Regions from separate parts of the Homo sapiens genome. Here region 1 is linked to region 2. The links come from fine-mapping of genetic effects on gene expression. A gene starts in region 2. The other region holds a variant in brackets. All regions are shown on one strand. Distances are from middle to middle. Region 1 overlaps IMMT (inner membrane mitochondrial protein). Region 2 holds the start of IMMT (inner membrane mitochondrial protein).

Region 1 (4,523 bases), 44 kb after region 2:
CAAAAAAAAAAAAAAGAAATGTTTAGGTTGCTGGGTGCAGTGGCTCATGCCTGTAATCCCAGCACTTTGGGAGGCTGAGGAAGGCAGATCGCTTGAGCCCGGGAGTTTGAGACCAGCCTGGGCAACATGGCAAAACCCCTTCTCTACAAAAAAGTACAAAAATTAGCCGGGTATGGTGGCATACACCTCTAGTCCAAGTTACTTGGGAGGCTGAGGTGGGAGGATTGCTTGAGCCCAGCAGGTGGAGGTTGTGGTGACCTGAGATTGTACCACTGCACTCCAGGCTAGGCAACAGAGGAAGGCTCTGTCTCAAAACAAAAAAACAAAAAATTTAAGTTGATTACTGTGAAACAGAGATAAGTCCTTTGAAACCAAAACCACAATTAATATCAATGATTCTTTTATTTTCTAAAATGTTATTTACCTTGATTTGTCTTGTTTTACAGTTTAAATTTTAGAAAATAGCCGTATCATTTCATTTTCCAGTATTAAAATAGCTTTTCCTGGTACTAGTCTCCGATTCCTTCTTGTTTCCTTTTAGATATTTCTGTTTAATGATCAATAACTAAAGTATGTGCATTCTTTTTTTTCAAACTGTTCTATTTTTTCCTTTGTAGGTGTTTCAGACTTAGGTGAGTGTTATGTATATTTCATGTTTAAAGTCTTTTGTTTTGGGTATTAAGAGACTAAAGTCTTTTTGTTGTGCCTATGATTCTTACACAAAGCCATCTAAATAGATATAAAGTAGAATTATGTCACATGATAAATCTGAATTGGATATTTTTGGCATCCGAATGCTCTCAGGAATGAAAATGTTTCATCAAGTGATTGGAATCCTATAGATGTGAAGTGTGTGTGTGTGTGTGTGTGTGTGTGTGTGTGTGTGTAATATGGATTGTAACTGATTACTTTGGAGAATTTCAAACATTAAAAAGTAAGAAGAAAACTAAAGAACTTCCAGGACCCATCACTCAGTTTTGTAGCCATCAGCACATGACCAGTTTTGTCTCATCTATTCCCACTCCTCCTCAGCTTATATAGAAAGCAGACTCAAATATCACATTCTTTCACTTGTAAATACTTTCAGTATGTTTCAAAAACATCACCATACTATTATCACACCTAAAACTTAGTAACAATTCCCTAGTCACCAAATGTCCATTCAGTGTTAAAATATCCCCTATTATTTCATAGAATGAGTCTTTACAGTTTTTATTTGAATCGATAACCCATAGACGTTCCACATGTTGAGTTTAGTCAATAAATCTCTTGCCCCTTTTTGTTTTTTGCTTTTCAATGTATTTATTAAGAAATTGAGTCATTAGTCATATAGAATTTCCTACATTCCATATTTTGCTGTTGGAGCCATAATTCTTCACTTCATCTTAGCCAAAAGACTAAGAAGTGATGGAGTCATAATTCTTTTTTTTTTGAGACAAGGTCTTGCTCTGTCACCAGGCTGGAGTGCAGTGGCACAATTTCAGTTCACTGCAATCTTCGCCTCCTGGGTTCAGGCAATTCTCGTGCCTCAGCCTCCTGAGTAGCTGGGATTACAGGCATGTGCCCCCATGCCTGGCTAATTTTTGTATTTTTAGTAGAGTCAGGGTTTCACCATGATGGCCAAACTAGTCTCAAACTCCTGGCCTAAAGTGATCCACCCGTCTCGGCCTCTTAAAGTGCTGGGATTATTGGCATCAGCTACTGTGTCTGGCCGGTGGAGCCATAATTCTCTCTTTTTTTTTTTTTTTTTT[G/TTTTTTG]AGATGGAGTCTTGCTCTGTTGCCCAGGCTGGAATACAGTGGCGCAATTTCGGCTCACTGCAACCTCTGTCTCCTGGGTTCAAGTAATTCTCCTACCTCAGCCTCCCGAGTAGCTGGGATTACAGGTGTCCACCATCATGCCCAGCTAATTTTTGCATTTTTAGTAGAGACGGAGTTTCACCAGGTTGGCCAAGCTGGTCTCGAACTCCTGACCTCAGGTGATCTGCCTGCCTTGGCCTCCCAAAGTGCTGGGATTACAGGTGTGAGCCACTGTGCCTGGCTGGAGCCATAATTCTTAATCTGTGTATGTGTTGCTACATTTTTGGATTGAGATTTTAAAAAAAAACAAACATTGGTTTAAGCCTAGATGAGAATCTTTGGGTGTATTTTAAAAAGCTTTGCAGTGATTCTGATGGACAGCTCTGGTTGCTGTGTTGGGATTTAATCTAGATCATATGTGTTTAAGAAAAGTAAAAAAACTTATTAAGGAAAAGTCTGAGAGAATTTGAATTTGATTTTTAGTTTTAGCAGAAAAGAATCTTCAATTGGATGCCTGTTATAACTAATCAGAGTTATGCCTGAAAGAAAATATAGAAGTGATTGTATATATAAGTTTTGTCTTTAAAGGCAAAGTTACAGTAAATGAGAAAGTCCATTTATAATTAGTTCAGATTAAAAGAGGGTTCCTGGAAAACAACTGATTATCTGAAGGCCTACCTGAATTTTGCCAGGGGTTGAAAATACCTTATTGGACACTAGCCAATTTCTGATTGAACTGGGGAATCTAAATCTCTTTTCATGTTAGCTAAGTTTTACTTTCGTTTACTGCTCTTAAATTATAATCAGTTGATGCAGATTACCTTGTAATGAGGTATAATTTCAGTGACATCATTAATATTTTAACATGCTCTTTTGCTTAGCTGACAAGCTCTCTACTGATGATCTGAACTCCCTCATTGCTCATGCACATCGTCGTATTGATCAGCTGAACAGAGAGCTGGCAGAACAGAAGGCCACCGAAAAGCAGCACATCACGTTAGCCTTGGAGAAACAAAAGCTGGAAGAAAAGCGGGCATTTGACTCTGCAGTAGCAAAAGCATTAGAACATCACAGAAGTGAAATACAGGCTGAACAGGACAGAAAGGTAAGAGAAATGAGAATTGTTGCCTAACATTTAAAGTGACTCTAACTTGATTGTTTACTTGTAGAAATAATACTGGCTCAGCCGGGTGCAGTGGTTCATGCCTGTAATCGCGGCACTTTGGGAGGCCAAGGTGGGTGGATCCCTTGTGGTCAGGAGTTCGAGACCAGCCTGGCCAATATGGCGAAACCCCCGTCTCTTCTAAAAATACAAAAATTAGCTGGGTGTGGTGGCTCGCACCTGTAATCCCAGCTACTCGGAAGGCTGAGGCAGGAGAACCACTTGAACCAGGGAGGCAGAGGTTGCAGTGAGCTAAGATCGTGCCACTGCATTCCAGCTTGGGCGATGGAGCAAGACTGTCTCAAAAAAAAAAAAAAAATACTGACAGTCATTGGCTTTAGGATATTGAATATAAGTCATGCCAGCTGACCTTTAGAATGGAGCTTAGGTCCTCATTCCCCTCATCAGAACTTCTAGGAAAGGAGTGATCGAGCAGAGTTCCTTTATGTTGAGCAGATGCAGAAGTGTAAGAAAGGAATAAGCTACTGGTATCCAGGATTATCTAGCTCATCTTTCCAGTGGAGCTGAGCCTCTGTCCCTTAAAGCAGTGCTGAACGAATCTTTGTTGGAGTCTGAGTATATTTTTCTCTGCTATTGTTGTTAAGTGGTTGGTGGTTAAAAAACAGGTGAAATAGCTTCTTTAGCCCTCTGTCTGGGCACACCATTTATTAAATAGGTGTCCACAGGCTGATTTGGGAACCTAACTACTCATCCCACCTTTGTGTCTTCTTAGCAGTACTACTGGCCACTCCTTCCTTCTTGAAACTATTTCTTCCCTAGGCTCCCTGACACCATACTCTTCTGGCCTTTCTCTTACCTTGCTGGCCACTCCTTAACCTCCTTTTCTGCTCAGCCTCTCAAATGGTGGCATACCTGGCATTAGTTCTGAAACGTTTTCTCCATCTGAACTGTCTCTAAGTGTTCTTGTTGAGTCCCGTGACTTGGAAGTTTAAATACCATCTATACCTGATAAATGTCTATCTCCAGCTCTGACCTCTGCCTTGGCTTCAGGTTCCTATCCAGCAGCCTACCTGGTATCTCCAGCTTGATTTTCAGTAGTCATTTCATGCTTATCATGCTCCAAACAGATTTATTTATTCTCTCCAACCTGTCTTCCAGCCCCTCAACTTGTTTCTCTCTAAATAAACTGAGTTGAACAATCTGCTCAGCTATTCCAGCCCAAATCATGCTTTGTTGTTCCTCCATCAACTCATATTCAGTTGCCCCACAGATCCTACCAGTTTTGCATCCAACATAAATCCCAAATCTGTCCACTCCATTACTACCACCTTAGCCCAAGCTGTCATCTTAACAGCTTCCACTATTTTTTCTTTTTCTTTCTTTTTTTTTTTTTTTTTTTGAGACAGAGTCTGTCTTTGTGGCCCAGGGTAGAGTGCAGTAGTGCAATCTTGGCTCATTGCAACCTCTGCCTCCCAGGTTCAAGTGATTCTTGTGCCTCTCAGCCTCCTGAGTAGCTAGACTTACAGGTGCATGCCACCACATGTGGCTAATTTTTGTATTTTTAGTAGAGACGGGGTTTTGCCATGTTGGCCAGGCTGGTCTCGAACTCC
Region 2 (4,000 bases):
TTTTTGAGACGGAGTTTCGCTTTGTCCCCCAGGCTGGAGTGCAGTGGTGTGATCTTGGCTCACTGCAACCTCTGCTTCCCAGGTTCAAGTGATTCTCCTTCTTCAGCTTCCCACATAGCTGGGATTACAGGCGCGCACCACCAAGCCTAGCTAATTTTTGTATTTTTAGTAGAGACGGGGTTTCACCATGTTGGCCAGGCTGGTCTCGAATTCCTGACCTCAGGTGATCCGCCCGCGTCAGCCTCCCAAAGTGCTGGGATTACAGGTGTGAGCCACAGCGCCTGGCCTGCCTGATAACATTTTAAAGCAAAAATATTGACAACTTCCAAGTGGAGAGTGAGGACTCTCCACGTAGGTTATGAGGGGTTGGGAGGCTAATTTTGAGGTTTGAGATCTTGAAGCTAGAGAGGTTGCTAATGATGTTCAGGCGCAAGTTGTGGCTGTGACGTACATGACTGAAGCAGGATGAAAACATTCACTGGCATTGACAAATTCAAAGCCAAGGGTGTTAGAAAAGTCATCACACGGGCACCACATGACTGAAGCAGGATGAAAGCGTTCACTGGCATTAAGAAGTTCAAAGACAAGGGTGTTAGAAAAGTCATCACACCGGCACCACTGGGCATGACAGCAGTGGGCAGGGAGGCAGCAATTCAATTGCTAAAATTACTAAAGAAAACGGGAGACTGCTCTGGAAGCTAAGTGAAAGAGATATGAAACATATGTAATTACTGTAGTCCCCTAAAAACCATAGAACATAGAACATATACAAACATAACTATTGCTTTCAGATAATTTTCAAGTCCATCTCTCCATGCTACAAGTCATAGCGCAGTCTACCTCTAGAGAGAATACATATTGTAATAAATTACCCAGTTAAGACTTGGAATACTTTGCAAATCCAATAGAAGATAGAAAAGTTAGTTTCCACGATATTGCAATAAGATGCTAATAGTATTAATACGAACATATTAATTCTGGAGTATACATGGAGTATTAATACCATGCTTAATATTTAACGTGTTTTATTTTGATTACAGAATCAATGGAATACTTTTGTTTTTTGAGACAGAGTTTCGCTCTTGTTGCCCAGGCTGGAGTGCAATGGCGTGATCTCGGCTCACTGCAACCTCCGCCTCCCGGGCTCAAGCAATTCTCCTGCCTCAGCCTCCCGAGTAGCTGGGATTACAGGCACCCGCCACCATGCCCAGCTAATTTTTTGTATTTTTAGTAAAGACGGGGTTTCACTATTTTGGCCAGGCTGGTCTCGAATTCCTGACCTCAGGCGATCCACCCGCCTTGGCCTCCCAAAGTGCTGGGATTACAGGCGTGAGTCATAGCTCCTGGCCCTACTTTTCTTTTTAAATTTTTTGTTTGTTTATTTTTCTATATAGAGACGAGGTCTCACTGTGTTGCCCAGCCTGGTATCGAACCTCTGGGCTCAAGCGATCCTCCCGCTTCGGCCTCCCGAAGTACTGGGATTACAAGCGTGAGCCACCGCGCCCTGCCCAGTGGAATACTTTCAACGGTGCTTCTGCATTGACTTCCCATCTTCCAACCCATCCACAAACTGCAGCCAAAATGATGTTACTACAGTAACAACTTGGAGAAAGCAGTGTGGCTTAATCTGGAAGGAGCAGAAGCTGTGGAGTCCAAAGGACCCGTGTTCCTATCCTTGTTGTGCCACTTGACACGTTTAGCACAAGGGTCCCCACAGTGTTAGTTCACCGTCTCCAGCAATCACTATGACTCCCTGGAGGGCTGTCAAACGAAACAAAGGCGCAAACTGAGACAATTCCATTGTTTACGTAACTTTCGCCAAATCGGCTCCTTCCTACGAAATATCCAGCTCATAGAGCAGGCTGAGATGCTTTGTTGCTTTAATTCTCTTTAAGAGTCACAGCTGTCCATTTTCCACGTGCGGCTGAAGAATGGATTTCAGAGCGCTCTCCCTCCGGCAGTGTTCACCTAGTAACCCCTTCCGGATAAGGACCTGCAGCCCGGGCGCGACCCGGAAAGGGAATCCGCCCTTTTCGCCTCCTTCGCGCCAATCGCCTGGAGTTGGCGTTTCCGCAGCCGGGACACAGCCCACCCTCTAAGAGCCGCGGAGTCGGGGACGGTAGAAGGGGCCGCGCGTGCGCAGTGGCGTCCGCTGTGCTTCCGGTGCGCCGGGCGCGGACGCGGGCACGCACACACGCAAGCACGCCTCCACTTAACTCGCGCCGCCGCGGCAGCTCGAGTCCACCAGCAGCGCCGTCCGCTTGACCGAGATGCTGCGGGCCTGTCAGTTATCGGGTGTGACCGCCGCCGCCCAGGTGAGCACTGGGGCTCCCGGAGGCGCGTGAGGAGGCTGAACTAGAACCGTCAGCGAAAAACGGGGGAGCCTTGGTCGCTGCCTAGCCTCCAGGACAAAGGCGAGCCTCAGGGCCACCCTCGTCGGGAGAGGCCCGGGCGGGCAGCTAGGCAGCCACCAGGGAGTTCGCCGGACTGGGATGACTTGAGGTTATTGCAGCAGCGGGGTGGGGTGTGGAGAGTAGCGGGAGGCGCGGCTTCGTGGGCATGTAGTCCAATCAGGGCCGCGCTGCCCCCGTCCAGGACCAATCCTGGCTGCTGGCGTCTGGGTCGCCGGTTGGGCGCGCGATAGGTTTTCAGTGCTGAAGGTCGACGGGCGAGAACTACAGTTCCCGTCAGGACGAGCGGAGCGGCGGCTTGTTGCATCCTTAATAAGGAGGTGCCTGGACTTCTAGCGAGAGTCCACATTTTAGGGGTCAAGGTTGTAATTATCTGGGAGGGAGTGCCTTTCTTTTCGCAGCTGAGAACACTTCTGAGTTATTCTTAATCCAAACAAAAGCGAAAGATTTTCATTTGTGGAGCTGAAACTCCTGGTCTTCAAGGAAAGACAGGAGTCATGACCTTGTGGCTCATTTCTGAGATTAGGGCAGGGATCTGTGTCTCCAGGCGCTGGGACTACTTTGACATTCAAGGAGCCTAAATACCCAGTTACTTCTAGTTTTGCGTAATTGCCAAAGTTACTTTCTAAAATTGAAAATTAAAAAGCCTGTTTCCACTGCTCATGATTTTCAGGAAGTTGATATTTTGGCAAAATGTAGATAGCAAACCAAGTACTGTGACTCAAGCAGTAATTGAACAGAATCCCTAGGAATAGTGAGTTAGAGATCATAAAAGTCAAGCTTTGTTTTTTCAAGTTCGCTTCTCTTCCTATTTGCTGCTAGGTAACAGAAGCAGCCCCTTCCATAGGAAAGTGGAACGAACCTGTGTTAGTTTTCTATTGCTGCGTAACAAATACCACAAATTTAGCAGCTTAAAACAACACCCATGAATGACCTTACGGGTTCTGTAGGATAGAAGTCTGGGCACGGATGATCTGTGTTCTCCGCTCCAGGTCACATAAGGCTGCAAAGTATTAGCCATGCTGTGGTTCTCATTTGGAGATCAGGGTCCTCTTCCAGGCTCATGCAGTTTGTTGGCAGAATTCAGTCCCTTGCAGTTACAGGACTGAAGTACTTCTTTTCTTGCTGCCTCTTGCCAGCCACTGCTCCCAGCTTCTACAGCCTGCCTACAGTTCCTTGCCTCAAGGCCTCTAGAGGCCATTCATAACATTGATGTTTGCTTTCGTGCAGGCTACCAGGAGCTTGCCTCTCTGACTTCCAAATTTCTTTTACTTTGGTCTTTCCTCTCTAGACCCAGATTTAAAAGGCTTATGTGATTAGACCAGGCCCACCTGGATGACCTCCTTTTCAGTTAATTCAGAGTCAACTTTTTGGGATCCCATTTGGGAATTAAGAAAACTAATTAAAACTTGGTAATAAAAAATGAACCCTTTTATAGCTCTGAATCAAGATGTCTAAGCTTCTTGAAATTGCTGTCTTGTAAAATTCTTTGGTTTATTCTCACCATCTCCTTAATTCTGTAGCATTTGACATTGCTGCTTTATGAGGCTCTTTGTACTTTTGGCTTCTCTCAAGTAATATTTTGGGTC

Evidence for each region. PIP is the estimated chance that this variant, and not a neighbour inherited with it, causes the effect.
Region 1: its variant is the best candidate, but not a certain one, in a credible set for the expression of IMMT in monocytes (Quach 2016, PIP 0.87).

Annotation. Positions count from the first base shown.
Region 1 is chr2:86,149,669-86,154,191 of GRCh38, reverse strand. IMMT (inner membrane mitochondrial protein) reads left to right here. Exons shown (of 15, transcript NM_006839.3): 11 at 618-632; 12 at 2,672-2,895. Among named protein-coding and RNA genes, the nearest start is that of SNORD94, 16 kb to the right of the region's middle. The variant G/TTTTTTG (reference allele first, on the strand shown) is at 1,752.
Region 2 is chr2:86,193,653-86,197,652 of GRCh38, reverse strand. IMMT (inner membrane mitochondrial protein) reads left to right here and starts at 2,191. Exons shown (of 15, transcript NM_006839.3): 1 at 2,191-2,315. The coding sequence starts at 2,271. RefSeq lists enhancers at 2,201-2,320, 2,341-2,520, 2,641-2,690.